2 separate regions of the Homo sapiens genome follow, and region 2 is linked to region 1. Evidence: fine-mapped expression QTL. Tissue or cell type: whole blood. Region 1 holds a variant in brackets; the other region holds the start of a gene. All regions are shown on one strand. Distances are between the middles of the regions.

Region 1 (2,761 bases):
TTAAGATTTGAAAGCAGTCTGGAAGATATATCCATACACTCATGTTCATAACAACACTATTCACAATAGCTAAAACATGGTAGCAACCCAAGTGTCTATTTTTTAAAAATTTTAAGTTATTTAAAAAATCTTTTTGGCTGGGCATGGTGTCTCATGCCTGTAATCTCAGCACTTTGGGAGGCCGAGGTGGATGGCTCCCCTGAGCCCAGGAGTTTGAGACTAGCCTGGCCAACGTGGCAAAACCCTGTCTCCACTAAAAATACAGAAATTAGTGGGGCACGGTGGCATGAGCCTGTAGTCCCAGCTACTCGGCAGGCTGAGGTGGGAGAATTGCTTGAACCTGGGAGGCAGAGGTGGCAGTGAGCTGAAATCATGCCACCGCACTCCAGCTTAGGCAACAGAGTGAGACTCCATGTCAGAAAAAAAAAAAATTTGTGGGCACACAAGTGCCTATGGATGGATGAATAAAAAAGCAAAATGTGGAATGAAATATCATTCAGCCTTAAAAAGGAGGTAATTCTCTTTTGTTCTTTCCTGTTTTTAGTTTAAGTTCAAGGGGTACTTGTACTGGCTTGTTGATATAATTTGGCTGTGTCCCCACCCAAATCTCATGTTGAATTGTGGTTCCCATAATCTCCACATATTGTGGGAGGGAGTTGGTGGGAGATAATGAATATAATGAGGGTGGTTTCCCCCATCCCGTTCTTGCGATAGTAAGTTAGTTCTCATGAGATCTGATGGTTTTATAAGGGGCTTTTCCCTCTTTTGCTTAGCACTTCTCCTTGCTGCCATCAAGTGAAGTAGAGTGTGTTTGCTTCCCATTCTGCCATGATTGTAAGTTTCCTGAGGCCTCCTCAGTCATGCTGAATGGTGAGACAATTAAACCTCTTTCCTTTATAAATTACCCAGTATCAGGTATGCCTTTATTAGCAACATGAGAATGGACTAATACATTTGTTACATGAGTAAATTGCATGTTGCGGGGGTTTAGTGTACAGATAATTTTGTCACCTAGGTATCAGCATAATATCCATACTTAGTTTTTCAATCCTAACCCTCCTTCCATCCTCTACCCTCAAGTAGGCCCCAGTGTCTTTTGTTCCTTTCTTTGTGTCCATGTATGCTCAATGTTTAGATCTCACTTATAAGTGAGAACATGCAGTGTTTGCTTGACTGTTCCTGCTTTAATCTGCTTAGAAGAATGGCTTCCAACTTCATCCATGTTGCTGCAAAGGACATAACCTTATTCTTTTTTATGGCTGTGTAGTATTCCCTAGTGTATATGTATCACATTTTCTTCATTCAGTCCACTGTTGATTGGCATCTAGGTTGATTCCTTGTCTTTGCTATTGTAAATAGTACTGAGAAGAATATATGCATGCATGTATCTTTACAGTAGAATACTTTATGTTTCTTTGGGTATTTACCCAGTAATGGGATTGCTGGGCCAAGTGGTAGTTCTATTTTAAATTCTTTGTGAAATCTCCGGACTGCTTTCCACAGTGGCTGAATTAATTTACATTCCCACCAGCAGTGTATAAGCATTCTCTCTTCTCTGCAGCCTCACCAGCATCTTTTGTTTTTTGACATTTTAATAGAAGCCATTCTGACTGGTGTGAAACGCTATCTCATTGTGTTTTTCTTTTGTAATTCTCTGATGATTAGTGATGTGGAACATTTTTTCATG[C/T]GCTCTTTGGCTGTGTGTATGTCTTCTTTTGAGAAGTGTCTGTTCATGTTCTTTGCCCATTTTTAAATGGGGATGTTTAATTTTGCTTCTTGATTTAAGTTCCTTATAGATTTTAAATATTAGAACTTTTTCAGATGCAATTATTTGCAAATATTTTCTCCTATTCTGTAGGTTGTCTGTTTACTCTGTTGATAGTGTCTTTTGCTGTGCAGAAGCTCTTTAGATTAATTACGTTCCACTTGTCAATTTTTGCTTTTGTTGCAATTGCTTTGAAATCTTTGTCACAAAGTTTTTGCCAGAGCCAATGTTCAGAATGTTATTTCCTAGGTTTTCTTCTAGAGTCTTTATAGTTTTAAGTTTTACATTTAAGTCTTTTATCCATCTTGCATTGATTTTTGTGTATGGTGAAAAGTAGGGATCTAGTTTCAACCATCTGCATAAGGCTAGTCAGTTATCCCAGTATATTTATTGAACAGGGAGTCCTTTTCTTGCTGTTTGTTACTACCAGCTTTGTCAAAAATCAGAAGCTTGTAGGTGCGCACCTTTATTTCTGGGTCTTCTGTTCTGTTCCATTGGTCTATGTGTCTGTTTTCATACCAGTAACATGCTATTTTGGTTACTGTAGCCTTAAGTCAGGTAGTGTGATACCTCTAGTTTTGTTCTTTTTGCTTAGGATTGCTTTGGCTATTTGAGCTCTTTTTTGGTTCCAAATGAATTTTAGAATGTTTCTTTCTAATTCTGTGGGAAGTGACATTGATAGTTTGATATGAATAGCATTGAATCTGTAAATTGCTTTGGGCAGTATGGCCAAAAAAGTGTAGGAAATTTTGACATATGCTACAACACACATGAAACTTGAGGACATTATGGCAAGTGAAATAAGCCAGTCCCCAAAAGACAAATAATCTATAATTCCCCTTATATGAAGAACTTAGAGTAGTTCAAATTATAGAGGCAGAAAATAAAATGGTGGTTGCCATGGGCTGGAGGGGTGGAGGAATGTGGAGTTATTATTTAATAGATATAGAGTTTCAGTTTAACAAGATGAAAAGAGTTATGGAGATGGATGGTGGT
Region 2 (2,761 bases), 40 kb before region 1:
TTTTGAGTGACTCTATTCTATGTATTTAGTAATCGTTTAACTAATGCTTTCAAGCCTTTTCATAAGCCACGGACCCTACGGGACACTCTCTTCTTTCCCACCCAACACCCACTATATTTAAACCTTAATAAAACTCATCCTTAAAAATTCTTCCGAATTAACTCATCCTAATTCTCTGCATTCCATTTATATTTAACACTAAATCAATTAGCATTCTACTAGACCTTCCTTTCAACTTTTAACCACTTGCATCCACCTCCTACCCCCTTCAAATCTCTCCATCCAGTCTTTCCAATCTTTGTTCTAATATGTGTGTGTATGTACGTATAGCATTAGTACTATAATTTAAAAAACTCCAGGAAATTCTGAAAAATAGAAAATGGAAGGTTAATACAGCCAAAAAAAAAAAAATCATCACAAAAATGCTTCAAGGAAAAACAGTAACAACTCAATCAACTGACAACTGAATCTGACAATACTTTGGAAAAGTACTACTTTAGGTTCTCAAGGACGCAAAGAGCCCTCAACAACTCAATTCAATCCCTGAATTATTGTGAGGCTTTAACAAAATCCCTAGAAAACCTCCAGGCATTACCACCAGCCTTTTAAAAATTACCTTCCAATATTACTAGCAGTGATATTTTTACTAACACTGAATTCCAAACAAGTTTTCCTCCCAAGCAGACTGATGAATAAACAATCTTCCTATGCAGAAACCAAATTAAAACCACTTAAAACCATGGAAGGGATACAGTGATTTAACCCTTCTGTAAGGACTGGAGTGGTGGGCAAACAGGTGACAAATGGAAGGGATGCAGAAAGTGGAAACAGAAATCAGTGAGACTCCTCCCCTTCTCTGAGGGCTAAGGTTCAGCTTGCAGCTCCGGAGGCAAAACCTCCACGGACCCTCTCCCTCAGCGACAAGCCGAATACGAAAGCTTCCAGAAAACCACAGGTCCTCCTCCCCGGCCTCGCACTCACGCCCTCACTCGCCTGGCCAACGCCCATTGATAGCAGACAGTCCCTAGTCCGCCCGACTTCTCCCGAGAAAAGGGTCAACAGAGGACGCCTTCCCCGAGGCCTCCTCCGGAACTCAGCCAGCAGAGACTCCGCAAAAATGGAGGGACCCAAGAAGCTTGAAGAAAAGTGTGAAAATTCTATTACCTGGTCGGAACCCTGGAAACGGAAAGGGCAGCTACAGCCACTGCCCTTCTCCGCCACAACGTCTGCCTCAGTACCACTGACATTGACACCGCCGCCATCTTGCTGCAGGCAAACGCCAGGATGAAAGGACGGATCACCGCAAGGGACTAACTTCCTTCGTTCTCAAGCCAGTGCAATCGCAATGTTGCGAAATTCTTTGGGATTTTATTTTCTTTTTAATACTGGGGCTTAAAAAAAGAGGGGAAACGCTTAGTTTAAATAAGTAAGAAGAAAAATGTGCGGGAAGAAATGCAGAAGTGCATTAACTGTAAATATTACCACCATAAAGTGTAATCTTTACTGCTTGTTAGGACTGGTGTTTTACAATGATAACGAAAAGACCAAAATATACTTGCATATTTAAACACCTGCAACTCGTAATTTATTGAAGAAATTAGGATATTTGGGGCTGAACCCACTGGAAAAGCTGGAGAGCTCTTTGGGTCCTTGAGAACCTGCAGTAGTACTTTTCCAAAGTATTGCCAGATTCACTTTGCAAGCCCTCAGGACAGGGCTGTATTCAGTTTGATATTCTGTAGTAGTAATGTTCGTATTTTCCAAACGAAAAATCTGGATACGTGATCTGGCAAAGGATTATTTTTTGACATGTAGATTTATATGAAGAATCAATAGAACATAATATTTGATGTCACTGTTTCCCCAGTAAATCCTGAATGTGTGTGTGTTCATAATCCATAGACATGAAGAATGATATTAATGCTCCATGCATATAAAACAAAAATTATCTTCCAATACAAGTGTTGGAAACATGTTTGTATTGTGGACTTCCGACCTTAAAGAATAATGACTAACTGAATTATATAAAATAAAAAGCAGGTTAGTTTTGGGTTTTGTTTTTTAAGAAATTTGTTTAAAGAGTTAGTACTTTCCTGCTTTTAAAATTAAGCACATGAAAACATAACCTTCATTAAATAAATAGGAACAATAGGAGGATGGGGAATGACATAGTTTGGCATTATGGACCGTTAAAGGAAAACCCAGTACATAAGGGAAAGGGAGAAAGAAAGAGAAAAAGTCATACTCAGGGAAAGAAATGCACAAGATGAAGGAAGGCAAGGGAGAGATGCCTCAGAGAAAATTTTCTTTCAAACTTTTCATTTTGAAATAGTTATAGATTCACATGAAGTTGCAAAGATAGTACAGATGTCTTGTGTACCTGTTTCCCCCAGTGATTACATCTCGTATAACTCTAGTACAGTATCAAAGCCAGGAAACTGGCATTGATATAAAGTATTTGTGTAGTCCTATGTCATTCTACTACATATTTTGTGTAACCACCACCATGATCAAGATACAGAACTATTCCACCCTCACAAAGATCTCCCTAGTGCTAACCTTTTTGGTAACACCTGCCCTCCTAACCCTAGTGATCTCTGTTTCTGTTTTTATAATTTTGACATTTTGAGATGTTATATGAATGGACTCATGCAGTACATGACCTTCTAAGATTGGCTTCTTTCACTTGGCATAATGCACTTGAGACCCATCCAAGTTGTTGTGTTTATCAATAGTTCATTCCTTTTTTATTGCTGAGTAA

What was found. PIP is the estimated chance that this variant, and not a neighbour inherited with it, causes the effect.
Region 2: it holds the start of NDUFS4, and the variant in region 1 is fine-mapped to the expression of NDUFS4 in whole blood (TOPMed, PIP 0.97).

Annotation. Positions count from the first base shown.
Region 1 is chr5:53,519,488-53,522,248 of GRCh38, reverse strand. No RefSeq gene overlaps it. Among named protein-coding and RNA genes, the nearest start is that of NDUFS4, 40 kb to the left of the region's middle. The variant C/T (reference allele first, on the strand shown) is at 1,688.
Region 2 is chr5:53,559,164-53,561,924 of GRCh38, reverse strand. NDUFS4 (NADH:ubiquinone oxidoreductase subunit S4) reads right to left here and starts at 1,286. Exons shown (of 5, transcript NM_002495.4): 1 at 1,165-1,286. The coding sequence starts at 1,262. RefSeq lists an enhancer at 885-1,384.